Regions from separate parts of the Homo sapiens genome. Here region 2 is linked to region 1. A link means that fine-mapping ties the variant in region 1 to the expression of a gene that starts in the linked region. Tissue or cell type: esophagus muscle. Region 1 holds a variant in brackets; the other region holds the start of a gene. All regions are shown on one strand. Distances are from middle to middle.

The links. PIP is the estimated chance that this variant, and not a neighbour inherited with it, causes the effect.
Region 2: MIATNB starts here. The variant in region 1 is fine-mapped to the expression of MIATNB in esophagus muscle (GTEx, PIP 0.93).

Annotation. Positions count from the first base shown.
Region 1 is chr22:26,748,600-26,756,703 of GRCh38, reverse strand. All of the region lies in intron 2 of MIATNB (MIAT neighbor), which reads right to left. Among named protein-coding and RNA genes, the nearest start is that of MIATNB, 80 kb to the right of the region's middle. RefSeq lists enhancers at 2,696-3,693, 3,694-4,692, 4,693-5,690. The variant A/G (reference allele first, on the strand shown) is at 4,546.
Region 2 is chr22:26,668,712-26,676,815 of GRCh38, reverse strand. MIATNB (MIAT neighbor) reads right to left here and starts at 3,973. Exons shown (of 6, transcript NR_110543.1): 1 at 3,829-3,973. It overlaps MIAT (myocardial infarction associated transcript), which reads right to left. Exons shown (of 5, transcript NR_033320.3): 5 at 338-8,104. RefSeq lists an enhancer at 7,657-8,104.

The DNA.
Region 1 (8,104 bases):
TGTGTATAACACTTAGCACAGAGCCTGGTGCGTCGTAGGCCCTCAAGAAATCCAGATCATAATTACAACCACCTTTATTTTCAAGGAAAAAAAAAAAACAGGCTAAATGAGGTTCAGAAACGGGGTGAGGGCCAGGCGCGGTGGCTCGCGCCTTGTAATCTCAACAATTTGGGAGGCCAAGGCGGACGAATCACACCTGAGGTCAGGAGTTCGAGACCAGCCTGGCCAGCATGGTGAAATCTCATCTCTATTAAAATACAAAAATTAGCCGGGCTTGGTGGCGGGCGCCTGCAATCCCAGCTACTTGGGAGGCTGAGGCAGGAGAATCGCTTGAACCCGGGAGGCGGAGGTTCCAGTGAGCCGAGATTATGCCACTGCACTCTAGCCTGGGCGACACAGCCAGACTTCATCTTAAAGAAAAAAAGAAAGAAAGAAAAGAAACGAAAGGAAATGGGGTGAGGTTACCAAAAACTGGGTAGCAAATAATTTTTTAGTATATCAAAGATCTCTAGGGGATAGATTTATCTTTTTTAAAAAAAATCACTCATTATTCATCTGAAATTCACTTTTAACTGGGAATGCTGTGTTTTTGCGCTTGTGTTTGCAAACCTGGCGACCCGATAACTGGGTGCCTTTGGACACAGCATTCCACCTCTCTGCTTCTGTAAAATAAGAGAAGCAAGACTCTATCCCTACACGTTTACAACAATAACTACAGGACTGTTGTGCAGATTAAGTGAGAGGATACAGGTAGTGAATATAAAGCCGGTCAGGGTTAAAGTTGCCATGTCCCTGATCACACCTATTTGCAGAGTTTAGGAAAGAAAAGGAGTCCAATAGCCACTAAGTTTAATGTGACTCCAGGCCTTTGTATGCTCTGTGTCCTGCTCCTGGATGACCCTCCCCTCTCTAATGACTCCTGAAGGTTCTCTCTGACGCTCTTCTTCCCAAATCGTAATCCCAACACACATTTCCTTGGAGCTCTCATCTATTTCATCTCAGACCCCTGCCTCTACCTGTCTTCTACCTGCAGGGAGAGGCAGCGTATTACTCCTTACCTGGCCTGCCTGGCACATACGAGACATTCAACTAACATTTGTGGAATGGGTGAATGTAGACATGGCTCAAGGCTCAGAGAAGAATACCTTATATCATGTGGCGTGGCAATGCCAGAAGGTAAGACCATGAGGGTGGGCTCTGCCCTGTTCCCCTGCTATAGCCCCAGCATCTAGTAGGCACCTAACAAAATTGGTTTACTTTAATGCAAACTGCTAACCTGACTGAGCTCTGTGTCTAATGCGCTGTGCCAAACATTTAATTATTTAAAACTTTTTATTTCCATAGGTTATTGGGGAACAGGTGGTGTTTGGTAACATGAGTAAGTTCTTTAGTGGTGAGCTGTGAGATTTTGATGCACCCATCACCCAAGCAGTATACACTGCACCCAATTTGTAGTCTTTTTTTTTTTTTTTTTTGAGACAGAGTCTCACTGTCGCCAGGCTGGAGTGCAGTGGCACCATCTCGGCTCACTACAACATCCGCGTCCCGGGTTCAAGTGATTCTCCTGCCTCAGCCTCCCAAGTACCTGGGACTGCAGGTGTGCACCACCACCCCCAGCTAATTTTTGTATGTTTAGTAGAGACGGGGTTTCACCATCTTAGCCAGATGGTCTCAATCTCTTGACCTCGTGATCCACCTGCCTCGGCCTCCCAAAGTGCTGGGATTACAGGCATGAGCCACTGCACCCGGCCCAATTTGTAGTCTTTTATCCCTCACCTCCCTCCCACCCTTTCCCGCTGAGTCTCCAAACTCCACGGTGTCATCCTTATGCTTCTGCATCCTCATAGCTTAGCTCCCACTTATGAGTGAGAACATACGACGTCATGCCAAATACTTTAAATATTTTCTCAACTATTAACTTTTCACAATGATGCAGGGAAGTGGTTACTATTATTGTGCCCACTGTACAGATAAGGAAGCTAAGGCACAGCAAGCTGGAGCCTTTGCCCAAGATGATGTAGATGTATGTGGAGGAATCGCACCTGAACCACAGCAGCTGGATCCGGTGCCCACCCTGAAGTTACTCAAGGACTTCAGAGACAGACCTTGACATGAACACGGTTTCCAACCTTCTCCAGTGAATGACCTCAGCAAATCTCTTCTCTCTGAGTTCCAATTCCCTCCATTCCTAAAGTGGAGAGAATGAAATTTCCAACCACACAAGATGGTGGTAAAGAACAGAAACTGTTCATGGAAAATGCACACAGCAGGTGCTCAATAACTGATGGTCTTCCTGGAAAATGCACACAGCAGGTGCTCAATAACTGATGGTCTTCCTGGTGATCACCGAAGCCCTGAGAAAGCAGCTTCTTAGGGCCACCATTTGCAAAACAGCACTTTGTGGTTGCTAATTCCTCATAGAGAGAAAAATAGCTGGAGAGATTTCCATTAAGATTTTCTCCAGAAATCAGTGCCCCTGGCAAGCTGCAGGGCTGAGGAGTGCCTCTAAGGTACCTGGAGTTCCAGTCCACAGGTGGAGGCTGGGGGAAAGGGAGGGAGGAGTAAGGCAGGGATGTCTTCAGGGCCCCGGCTGAGTCCCCTCCCCACCTCCACGCAAAGGACAGAGGAAGTGGGATGAAATCGGGGGCACTTTGGGGGCTTGAGGCACAGTGGGGTGACATTCTGTCTGAATCAGTATTCCTTTTGCCCTGATCCTGCACCACGACCAGCCAATTTCTGTCAATTTACTCTTCCTACCTAAAATTTCACTGGTTTCTTACCTCATTCATTCTTTATTCATGCATTTATTCAATAAATTTCAGTTGGGTATCTGCTATGTGCCGGCACCATTCATTCTTGGCACTAAGGATCCAGTGATAAACAGACTTGGTTTTTGCCCTTCATGGGGCTCACAGACTAAGGTGGGGGCAGGCAGGGGGTATGGAACAGACACTAAAGATATAATAATTAGATCGGAGTGACAGGAAAGCCGAGGGGGCTGCGAGCACTCAGGAGATCAAGGAAGTCTTCCTGGAGGAGGTGACATTTAGGTGGAGATGAGGAGAATGAGTGGGGGGTGAGTCATCCAGGGGAGTGGGGCAGAACACTCCAGAGAGAAGGGGTTGGTAGGCAAAGGTCCCAGAGTGAGACTGAGGACCTGCAGGGGATGAAGTGAGCATGTGCCAGCACAGGGAGAGATGAGGCTGCTGAGGGAAGCAGGGCCAAGGTGGATCTTGAAGCCCTAGTGAGGATTTATGGCTTTTGCAAGGGTATTGGGGAGCCACCGAGGGTTTTATGCAAGTGGAGTGGCATCATCAGATTTCCAGCAGCATTAAATACAAACTCTTCTCCCATCTGCCCCCTCCTGGCTAGTATCGCTCCTCTCATGCCCTCTACTCCCCTTAACCAGGCTCCTCCTGAATCCCCAATGTTACGCTAACCTGGCTACATCTTCCGCCTGGACATGCGCATCTTGGGCTGCACCAGGGCACAACGAAACAAGCCCCAGGTTTGGATCAAACAGACCCAGCTTCAAACCTGGCCTCTTTGGCCTCTGGACCACCTGGATCAGGTCCCTAATGTCTCTGAGCCCCAGTTTGCTCATCTGTAAAATGGAGATCATCACTGTCCACCACTAACAGTGTCCTGAAAGGACCTGGCTCTGACACTTACTGTTTTCTTTCATCTGTTCCAGAAGCATGCCACCTCCTCCAGGCAGCCCCCCACCCTTCACTCCTCCAGCCCTCTGAACACCAGAAGCACTTCCTGTTTGCCCCTGCCCCCGGGTAACATGCATAGAACATAGCTGTTAAGAGGTGCATCCCTCCAGCAATCAGAAACCATTTGGGGTCAGAGCCCAACGGGTCTTTCCCAGCAGATCCTGGGAGTCTGTCTGCCCAGGGACAGGACAACTCCTTAAAGCAGGAGAGAGATGGACAGACAGACAGAAGGGCTCTGGGGAGCTAAGTGAGGTCCCAGGGAGTGTCGAGACTCCATGTGCTCATTTTCTGGGGTGGATCAGGATCTGGGAAATCACTCGGAAAGCTGCACCTCTTAGGCCAGACTGATAAACAGGCTGCCAACTTACAGTGGGGAGCACGATCTCCCGCTGTGACTGCATCCCCCAGATGGTGGCTGAAGGGCTCAGGCCTCAGCAAGTGATGGAATGGGGTGCCTCAGGCAGGAGAGGAACTGCACCCGGCCCCACCCCAGCAGAAGGGTCCCACATGTCCACCATTCCTGCTCTCAGGAAGCCAGGGTTCCCACCCCTACCCCCAACAGTCTCCCACTGACACCTCAGATGCCCACCTTCCTGCATCTCAGCAGTCCTGGGCAGCCAGGAAGAGACGCTGGCTTTTGGGCTTGCATGACACAGGGTTGGGGGGGTGGGTCAGGATAAGTCCTGGGGCTCTGGGGGGCCCTCGGACACAGAATGCAGAGGGCTGGGCAACATAGTGTCCCCCACACTGGTCACCTCTCCCAGGTCTCTTCCTCAAGCACACCTCAGACTCCCCACCCCTCTCTGAGCATCGGTCTCCTCTGCAC[A/G]ATGATGACCCATAATATTCTGAATTAATAATTCCAGTAATGTTGACACCCCCACCCCCACCACCAATGTCAAGAGTCTGGCAGGAACATCAGTAACCATAGCTACCAGCAGCACCCACTTAGCTTCTGGCAAGTTCCATAGAAATTCTACAATCTTTTTGGGTAAAGAGACTGACCAAGGTGAGGGAGTCACTTGACTAAGCCCAGGTTACCACTAAGAAAATACCAAATGAATAATGGCCCCCAGGGAGTTAACACTCACTAGGGGCCCACTACTATTCATTTACCTGAAATGCTCAGCTAATGCTCACAGTCACCTTGTGGATTATTATCCCTATTTTATACAAGAGGAAATTCAGATTCAGGGAGGGAAAGTAACTTGCACAAAGTCACATAGAAAGTTAGAAGAAGGGCTGGGACTCAGACCTAGTTCTCTGGATGTTAAGACTGCTGGCAGAATTTCTAGATGGGGTGAGAAGGAGAGGCAGGATGTCCCACCCAGACCAGCCTCCATCCTGCACCATAAAGACACTTCCTTCCCTCTGCCCAGAAGTGGAGTCATTTCTCTCTTCCCTTTTAAAGGTGGATTTCTCCTCCAGCTCCTCCCTGCTCCTTCCCCCTCCCCCAGCAGCCACCCCGCTTCCCTGAGCTGCCTTCCTCCCCCTCTCTCTCTCACTCTCCAACACAAAGAGTTGTCAAGGTAACCGCATTGCCAAGGACTCTCTCTTTGTCTGGGGCCCTGGGAGGAAATGCATAAGCCAAGTCGCTGCTCACTGACCCCAGATGACCCCCACAGGGAAGGACAGCCCTGGACCATCTTTTCAAGGACTGCTTGCCTCACCCCACCTATTTCAGCCGACTGCACCCTGATAGCAGCTCCAGGTGGCACATTCCAAGTCCCAACGTGCAAGAGGCTGAGGACCTGGAGGAAGTGTCTTGGGGCATAACTTCCTGGAGACACACTGCTAGAAACACTCAGGGAAAGGAAACAGCAAAGAAAGAGCACACTATGTGCTTGGTACTGGGATGGGCATTGCCGATGGTACAGAGAATAACATCCACTATTGTGCCTGACACTGCAAAGCACCTTGGGTGACACTGAGCATAGCACCTACTGAGTGCTTAGGCCTTTGCTAGACACTGACAGGGCACTGAGCACAGCCCCTACTTTGTGCTTCCCTCTGTGCTAAGATGACGGAGAGGTGCTGGCCATGAGATGAGTTTGAGAAGGAATCTCTGAATGGCAGGTGTTTGAGTCAAGCCTTGAAAATCCTGGTTGAATACACAATGAATAGGGTTGAAGACATTGGACAGGGGGAAAATCAATACTCTCGGAGCTAAGCAGTAACTATGGACCCAGCAGGTCAGGCATGTCCCTTGCTTTAAACAGCAAAGTCAGGATTTGACATCAGACTCATCTGATTCCACGTTCCCTTCCCCCCTGTGGTGGTAACTGATGATGTTCCAGGTGATAGAGTCTCCATCAGCCTGAGTCTGTGGATGAGAAGGATGTGGAGCAGAGCCTCCACCAGCTTGGTTGGTGAAGACTTGGTTTTTGCCCTTTGGTTTTTCCCGGAGGCGTACACCGTGCACACAGAGCACAAGCAGCAAATCAATCTTGGCTGCTCTGTGCCATTAAAACCTGAGCCAGGCTGGGCACGGTGGCTCATGCCTATAATCCCAGCACTTTGGGAGGCCAAGGTAGGTGGATCACCTGAGGTCAGGAGTTTGAGACCAACCTGGCCAACATGGTGAAACCCCATCTTTACTAGAATTAAAAAAAAAAAAAATTAGCCAGGCGTGGTGGTGCACACCTGTAGTCCCAGCTACTCGGTAGGCTGAGGCAGGAGAATTGCTTGAACCCGGAAGGTGGAGGTTGCAGTGAGCTGAGATTGTGCCACTGCACTCCAGCCTGGGCGGCAGAGCAAGACTCCATCTAAAAATAAAAAATAAGAAAATAAAAAATAAAAAATAAACCTGAGCCACTAGATTCCTTAAAGAACTAAAAGTAGAGCTACTATTTGATCCAGCAATCCTACTACTGGGTATCTAGCCAGAGGAAAAGAAAGTCATCATACAAAAAAGATATTTGCCCACACATGTTTATAGCAGCACAATTCGCAATTGCAAAAATATGGAACTAGCCCAAATGACCATCAATCAACGAGCGGATAAAGAAAAGGTGATATATAGATATATATACACCATGGAATACTACTCGGCCATAAACAGGAATAAAATCGAAGCATTCACAGCAACCTGGATGGCATTTGAGACCATTATTCTAAGTGAAGTAACTCAGGAATGGGAAACCAAACATTCCACACTTACAAGTGATAGGTTAGCTTTGAGGACACAAAGGGATAAAAATGACAGAATGAATTTTGCGGACTCACGGGAAAGGGTGGGAGGGGGTGAGGGATAAAAGACTACACATTGGGTATAATGTAGACTGCTGGGGTGAGGGGTGCACCAAAATCTCAGAAATCACCATTAAAAACTTATTCATGTAACCAAACACCATCTGCTCCCCAAAAACCAATTGAAATAAAAAATAAAATTAATAAATTAATAAAAAAAATTTTTAAAAACCTGAGTCACTGTAACTGAGAATTTAGGAGGTATTAGTTATATTGCAGCATATCACAGTCCACTCTGACTGTTACATCATCAGACTGAACCAAAATCCTGCGGCTGGCCCTCCTTGAGTCTCATCTCTGAATCAATCACTGTAGGCTGAGGGCAGCAGTACTCGATTGGCTCAGACCTGGTTCACTGGCCATGCCTACCTCCAGTGAGGGAGGAGAAGGAGTCACCTCTACCCATGTTGTTGGGCTTGGCATGGCCAAGGGTGGCTTTTCAAGGAAGATGGCATGCTGTTACCAGAAAGCGGGGCAGTTGCTGAAAAGGAGATACGAACACGTGTCCACTTTGAGGGCCTCATAGCCAAATGCTGTGCAAGAGGTTCCTACGCTGAATGGGAGACAAGTTCCCAGGCTGCTGCTGCTTCTCACAAGTCTCTGAAATTTGCCTGGAAAAAGATTCTATTGATTTTTTCTGGGTAACGTGGCTTCTTCCCTCAAAGAAGTCCTTTGGTTGCCGGGAGGCCTGCCAGGCAAGGGGTTGGCTTTCCCCAGGAAGGGTGGAGAAGACTAGGCTGGGGTAGGGAAATCAAGGGGAGAAGGAATGGCCAGCTGCCCCTAGCTGCCCAGGGAGAGGGAGGAGGCCAAGCTTGCTCAGAGCAGTAGTTGGAGACTAGCACGGACACCCCTGTGATCCTTTTTTCTAAAACCCAGATCTTTTGCCTTCACTTCTCTCCTTAAAAACCTTACATGGCTCCTTGCAAACTAAAATCAGCGTTGATTTCTATGCCAGGCACTGAACAACGTATTCCATTTACATTGTTATCCCCCCTAAAACTTCATAAGCAGCTATTAGAGTTTAGAGTTTTAACTCGTGAAAAATATGAGCAAATGAATGCTCAGAATCACAAGTGGCAGAACCAAGGTCACAGAACTCAAAACAGAGCTCCTAGTCTTCACCCACCCATTCAACTTGC
Region 2 (8,104 bases), 80 kb after region 1:
AGACCAGGAGATCAAAGCCAGCCTGGGCAACATAGCAAGACCTCATCTCTAAAAAAAAGAAAAGAAAAATAAATACCAATGGTGATAATGGTTGCACAACAATGTGAATGATACCACCAAGATGTTCACTTAGAAATTATTATGGTGGTGAAGTTTTATGTTATGATTATTTTACCAAAATTAAAAAATAAAATACCCTATTATATTGACTTCTAGGGTCACTCTTGAGGAAAGGCTGACTCACCGAGAGAGCCCACCCCTGCTCCTTGAGAATGCCACTGGCTGCCCCCTCTCCCCTAAACAGCACGTCCCTTCTGCTTCATAGGCCACAGTCATGTTTCCAGCGTGAATTGATTTTTAATAGCAAAATGGCATTTTACACAGAAGCAGCTACATTCATGGATGAAAACAAAAATCCAAGTGACGCTCCTTTGTTGAATCCATGTAAAAATCTGATTTTTAATCTACAGAGAAATTTCTACCCACACATTCGGTATCCCCTGGGGGTAATGACATGGAAAACAAACATCTTTTCTGGTCTGTTAAAGTAAAACAATGGGTCCCTGGATAGACTCTCAAGAGGGCCTTTGATGGAATGGAACCAGTCCCCCCACCCCGAAAGCATCCCCCCAGCTCAACATGTCACCATTTACACCAGCACAGCCCTCACATTGGGTCCACAGCACAACCTATTAAGAAAGGATTATAACACCTGTTCGGATTGGGAGGCCAATTCCTCAGCTCTAAGATCCTGCTCATAGCAAGCTTGATGTTCAGTAGACTCCAAAGCAGACTGAATGAGGGAGGGGTCGAAGAGAATGTGCCTGCTTGGGCTCAGCCTCCTCTAATATTGTCAAGATGCACACACACTCTTAGAATCTCACAACCATCGCCAATCTCTATGTTGGCCTAGTCCCAATCCTTCTGCCTCTGGGAACAAAAGGTTCATTACCCACCAAGGCATATTTTTCCCTCTCTGGGACCAGGATCAGCTCTTGCAAGCTTACTCCACACTTGTATCTGCCCCTTGCAGCCATGCATGACAAATGGGCTCCCTCCCCAATGGAATTATCTTATAGACTTGCAGCCTATGACTGTGTTTCCCCTGATCTTCTCCAGGGACTTCCCACCACCATGGGATGACATGTTTTCAAGATTGCTCCCCTTCCGAGCCTTTATTTTCACCTTGGTCCTCTTTACTTTCCAGTCATTGCAGAGATACTTCCAACTGGGGTAGACATGTATGGATTCTGTTTATCAAAAGATGGACCAAAGGGTCTTCCTAGTTTCAAAAAGTTCTGCTCAGTTGTCTAAAATGTGGCCAGAGGCCATTGCAAACTCCTCTGAGTTCCACCTGGGCTGGAAAAGCCAAATGGCCAGCCTAAAACTCAAATCCACTAACTCCCTTTCTCAGATCATATCCGTCGCTCCCCAAGGCCTAAGGATAAAATCTAAACTTCTTGGCAACCAGACCCGGCACCATGTCCATGTCTCCTATCTCTTGCTACATTCCACATGAACCTTCCAGAACCTCTTTGGATCCTCTCTGATCCCCAGAAACTGGTGTCCACCACTCTCGCTGCCCGGAACTCATCCCCACCCACACTCCACCCAGCCACAGCTCAGCTTAGATGCCTCCCTCTCCAGAAAGCCACCACAGGGTGGATTAGGTGTCTCTCTGTCCCCATTCCACCCCCCTGCACCCAACACACTAGAATTAAAGCTCCTGAAGACCAAATGGTGTTTAACTACCACTACATCCCCAATGCCTGGCACACGCCTGGCACAGAGTAGGTGCACATCAATCTTGTCTGTCTCCTTGGTGCTCCCACAGACCCCTGACCAATCATAACACCCATCTCACTGAATCACTATCTACTTCACCAACTCTCCCACTAGGCTATAAAAGCACCATGACGAAAAAGCCCAGGTGCAGGTCCCAGCGCCCAGAGCAGTGCCTGGCACATAGTAGATCCTTAGCAGCATCAAGTCTTTGCAGTTAAACAAAGAGGAGTTTCAGGAATAGGAGGTGTGAGCTTCCTGCTTTGAGTGAAATGGAGCAAGGCAGCCACTAGAGGATGGCAGGCAGGCACTTCCGGGTGTAGACTACCCCATCCAAGGTCCCTGCCAGCAGCCAAGGCATGTTCTCAAAGCTCTTTCTAAGACATCTTTTCTCTCTTGTGCCCTCTGCAGCTCAGGCCTCTGGATCACCCTTCACCCCCACTGCCAACTACAATTGGTTAGCTCTGAGTCCACAGTTGCCAGAGAAAAGGGCTCTCAGCACCAGACTAGCATTCAACGACCCAAGCAACCTGCCTCTAAGGTCTGTAAGCCAGCCTTTGACCTGTCCCTAAACTGATCCAATCCTCCAGGCCCTGCCTTGAACTGTCTTCTCCTGCAGACTCTGACTACCAGACTGAGTCAGCAAAACCTTGAACTAGTGCCACCTTTTACCTGCACCTGGAATCCCTTGCGTATGCTCCCTGCCCCTCTACTCCCAAAGGACGTTCCCTCAGTCTAAAGAGATCAAAAGTCCCTTCCAGAAAAACTCCCGTTTCCTCGGTGCAGCTAAATTGCACAGAAGAGTTTATGCTAGAAGAGCTAAAAGTTAGAACAGGAAGCTCAGATAATTTATACTACTAACATGTAAATGACTGACGGAGTTATAACCCTTCTGAATACTCTGATCTAAAGCTTTATGTCCTAGAACTTCCAAAACACAAAGTCCCCAAAATGAAGACTCTAGGCCCTGGCCTGGGGAAGGGTGACTCTATACAAAATGGCATATGCTCTGTAGACACCAGACAGGTATTTTAAGGTTTATAAGAGCTGCATCTACTTGTGCAAACTACTGTAGCTATAAGGCTATATTTTTTTAAGAACTGAAACCAAATGCAGACTATGAGGAGTGAAGATATGCCCAATGGCCAAAACCTTGCAAGACTGGCTATACTTCTGACCCCACCTTGGTGGGTACCACTGCTCCATCAGGCCTGGTCCACACCAGAGCCCTGGCACCTCCTTTAGAAAACTACCATCTTTACCGACTTCTGATTGTTCTGACTCAGAGCAGCCACCACGCCCAAAATTGTTAGCTATGCTTTTCCCTGTGTTAGTCAAGTTCAAACCTGTGTTAGCCAAGTTCAAACCTGTGTTAGCCAAGTTCAAAGCTGTGTTAGCCCCTTCCCAGCCATGCCGACATCCAAGCTGTTAACAGTAACGAGGAATGTTAGACCTGTTGTTAGTCAGAAAAAAATCCACAAACCATTAGTTTCTGCTGAAAGGAACAGACCAGGAAGGCAGGAGTTAGTCAAGGTGAAGGAAAGGTTAATTAAGAACCGGTCAGGGCCAGGCCAGGAGCCTGGAACCCCCAGACAGGGCCAGGTTGGTTGTTAGTGGTCAGCCCCTGGGGCAGTCAGGGTGAGGCAGGGATTAGCTGGGTGAGAGCAAGAGTTAGCGCAAGGGAGCCAGAGATTAGCCCAAAGAAACCAAGGTGCCTACTGGAGGTGAGGCATGAAATCACCCCCAGGTGTGGCCCCGGCTTAGCGGCTGGCGGGCTCTGGGGGAGGCTGGCTGAGGCAGTGACGTCCGTGGGAACAGAGAGCCAGAGATGCATTCCTGGCCGGCCTGAGCATCTGCGGGAACCCTGTGAGCCCCTGAGGTTCACTTCTTGCTCCCCACTTCTCTCTCCTGCAAACTCCGAGCCCGGGGTAAAGCTGCTTCCCCTCCCCACACCCCTTTTCAACCCGACAACTAACGCCCTCTAGCTTCCGGGAATGGGACGGATCTTTCCCAAGGACTTCCGGTCACGGCCCCACGTCTACTTACGGTGGGGGAAACCGGCCTCTCTCGGCTCCAGAGAGGGGAGACGGCTCTCTAGCTGACTTCCTGTGTGGGAAAGAGTCCTCTCACTGACTTCCGGTGTCAGAAATGTCCCTCTTTCCGGCCTTCAAATATGAGAAATGTTTCTCTGGCCGACTTCCTGTGTACTAAATACTCCACTCAGTGGTTTTTAGCGTAGGAAAGACCCGCTTCATTGACTTCCGGTGTAAGAAAGGCTCCGCTTTCTGACTTCCGGTGTGGGACACGCCCCTCTGCTAATTTCCGGTGAGGGGCACGCCCCCTCCTGCCTTCCTCGTGGGATACGCCCCCCTCGTGACTTCCTGTGCAGGACAGCTTCTATCCCCGTCACTTAACAATGGAGAGGATTCTTCCCCAGCTTCCTTCCAGAGGACACAAAAGCTCAGAGCTCCACAGTCTAGAGTCTAGACCAACAGGCCTCCACACTCACGTCCCAGAGATTTCCCTGGTCCCACCTACTCCCAGTGGCAACCAGACTTCTGCACATAGGAGAGATGTCATACTCAGAGTCCAGCCTCCCACATCCACAGGACCACCTCTTCCTCCTCTGAGTCTTGTTAATAGGGCCATCCCCTGCCTTAGACCTGGCCCAGTGGACTCTGATCTTACAGCCAATATGGGGCAGCAAAGTGGGACATCTGTCTACAGGGCCAGTAGCCCCAGGTCATCTGCTTGCCAAAAGGAGGGGGACCAGCCCCCGGGGGGAGCCCAGAGCTCGGCAGGGCTGGGGTTAGTAAGAAGAGAAAACAGGGTTAGTAGGGGCTGGGTTAGTAAGTCAGAGCACAGCACCAGCGGACAGGGCACCTCAGCAGACACACACAGGAGTCGCTAAGAGAAAAGGAAGAACGCACGCAGGTCCGTTAGTTTGTTAAGGGATGATCGGGGTGCAGTTGAGGCACCCCAGGGGTTAGACGGGTTAGTAATCGAACAAAAGAGCTGCCTACAGAAAAGAAAGCTGAGACGGAGGAAGAATGTGGGGAAGTGACATGGATTCAAAGCCAAGTGTCTTGCCCCAGGCAGAAGGATCTGTGTGCAGAACACCCAGAGAGGCCAGGGCCTAGGCAGCAGACGTGTTCAACCAGGTTTGAGGGGCCTTCCTCCATCCTCATACTTTTTTTTTTTTTAGGTGTCTGCCATGTGCTGAGACCCTTATATTGACGGGAATCCTCACTGCAACCTGTAAGGTATCAGAACTCGCATTCTACCACTGAGGAAACTGAGGTTGAGAGAAGTGAGGTGACTTACTCAAACTCACTCAACAGGAAGTGGCAGAGTTGGTGAGTCTTATTTGCATTCTCTGTCCTGGAACGTGGGTCTGCACAAAGATCCCAGCCCATAGGCAGAGCCTTCTGGAGCCTTGGCTGCCCCCATATCCCAGCCCCTTGAAAGGCCCATGAGCTGCACAGTTAGTAGGATCTGGCTGCGGGGGGGTGGTTAGTAGGGCATGCTCGGGCCTGGTTAGTGGGTTAGTTGGTTGGCAGAAGGCCAGGCACCTCGTCACACGCCACAGCGTCCCGGCTGAGCCCTGGGTTAGTAGGTTAATCACACCATGCAACACTGCCCCGGCCCCTCCAGCTGCAGCTTCAGAGGCCTCCCGCCCCCACCAGCCAGGGAGTGGGGCCTGACCAGGGCAGGGGGTCTAACTCTAAGCCCCCCAGCCCCATCAAAATCAACCCTAACCACATGGACCCTGCCCAAAAGCATGTTGCTTCCCTATTTATTGGCTGTGGGTCTCAGAGCACCCCCTGCAAATATTTCAGCTCCCCTGAAAATGGACCCTACTTGTCCTAGACAGAAACCCCCTGCCTGGTTCTGGTCAGCCCCTTCCCAGAGGGCTGGATCCTGTTACACTCTGACAGACACACGCACACCCGCATCTCTCCGCAAAAGATCTGACAACCGTGCTTAGTAGACATCTCTTCCATCACCGACTGTCAGGCCTCTAGTTTCTCCAACTATTGGCCTGCCCTCCCACCATTAGAAAAAAAAAAAACGCATCAAGCTGGCCTGGCTCCTGGAACCAAGTTGAGACTCCCCCACGCCCACCCGGTCTGCTTCCTTTTCAGCCAATGCTACAAAGCACCTAAGTGTACCCTAATTATGCCATCTTCTATCACTGCTGTACTTTTCCCATAGAAACCCCAGCCTAGCATCTCCCACAGTTCTAAACGATGTTCCATGAGAAAAAGATTCTACGGCCATAAAAGTCAAGGAACACTTCATCCTATGCCCTGTCCCTGAGTATTTGAAATTGCCATTAGCATTTTAAAGGTTCTGATAAGTCCTGCACTACTTCAGTAGTGCAGCGGAATTTGAATTAGAACCTGCTTTTTTTTTTTTTTTTTTTTTTTTAAGGAGCAATGACATTTCCTAGAAGTTACTTTAAGAATTTCCCTAGAGGGTCGGGTATCATCTCAGCCAGATCTTTCTCATCCTTCAAGGCCCTGTTTGGTACAGCTTGCTAGGAAGCTGTTCCAGACTGCAGCAGCCCTCTCTGGGGTCTCTCTACCACTTCCCAGGCACTCAGAACTTGTGCCTCAGTAGACTGTTTTGTGGCACTGTCCCATTCTCTGATTCTCCATGTGAGCTGGTTTTATCCCATCCAGCATGGCTGTGAAATCCTAAAGGTTCAAACCCCAGCCACTCTTCACCTATATTTCCCCCAAATGGCTAGCACGGGAAAGGGCCCAAAGTAGGTGCTCAGTGCTGATGAGAGAGTAGAATTTAAATACCCCAGGAAGCATTGTGAGTTACTACGGAGGCCATGAAATGCTGCCACCTCCCCAAGCTGATTAAAGAGTGATACTAGGAAAATAGGTAGGGAAGGGCTAATCAGAAATGCCTCTGGTTCAGAAGATGCTGAGTTTTAAAGTCCAGAGAGCCAAAAAAAAAAAAAAATAGATAAACCCTAAGTCTATACTCCCAGATGGATGGGAGCATTTGCTGAGCACCTACTGGGAGTCAGGCACTGTGCTAGGCACACAATCTCACTGAATTCTCCCTGCACCTGACAGGCAAGCACATTCCTTCCATTTCACAGAGCATCGGAGGCTCAGAGGTGAAGTAACTTGCCCAGGGTTGTAGCCCAGGCCCTTCTCAGGACACGGCTCTCCCAGGGCCTCCGCCTCCCTGCACTGAGCCCTGCCAGTTCCATATGTCCTCCGAAGCACTCCTGAGCCACCCCAGCATGGTACCTGCCACTCTCCGTGTCTGCTTCCCATACCTCTCTGCTCCTCCTCCCCATCCCTGGGTGGGGGCGGGAATTCTGAAGGGGAGAAGGCTCTGACTTTCCATGTTTGCGGTGACCACCCTGTTAAGAACTGAATGGTGTCCCCTCCCCCAAATGCATATGTTGAAGCAGTAGCCTGCTATGTGACTGTTTTTGGAGATGGGACCTTTAAGGGGTTAAGGTTAAATGAGGTCATAGGTTTAAGCCCTAATATGGTGATATTAGTGTCTTTATAAGAAGAGGAGGAGACACCAGAGCCTGCTCATGCTCTCTGTCCCTCTCCACAGAGAAAAGGCCATGTGAGGACATAGTGAGAAGGTGCCACCTGCAAGCCAAGGAGAGAGGCCTCACCAGAAACCAAGTCTTAACACCTTGATCTGGACTTTCCAGCCTCCAGAACTGGCAGAAAATAAATTCCTGATGTTTAAGCCATCCAGTCTGGCATGGTGCTGTGGCAGCCCAAGCTGATGAATAGTACACACCACTCCGCATTCTGGGAAAAAGGACATCTGGCTTTTAAACTTGCCTAAGGGAGGCCACAAGCTGCTCTCTTGCAAACGCTGGGACTGTCTCCTCTGGAGGGAGCTGGAATTGCAGATTGTGGGGCCTGTCCTGCCACCTTCTGTTCCCCAAGAACAGAATCCAGGAGCAGTGCAACTAGAAGCAGCGATCTGATTGGAGAAGAGTGTCCTGAGACTGGGCTAAGGTGACCCCTTAAGCCTTTGGGTAAGACTGGTTCCCTTTGGATGGCAGGAAAAAAAACCCAGGGCCACCTGTCTCTTTCTAGTGAATTTCCCTAGCCTAAATCTTATCTCTTAAAGACCCTCTCTTTTCAGGATGGTGCACTCTCAGCCCCTCTGGCTGCCCCTCCCAGAGTTCAACAGCACAGGGGGAAGGCTCCAGCTCCTCCCAGATCCTGACTGTCTCCTCTTTGTAACCATCAGGGAGAGGAAAAGCATGGAAAAGCCCCACCAAGGAAGTCCCCCACAAAATGACAATTACGCACTGAGCAAA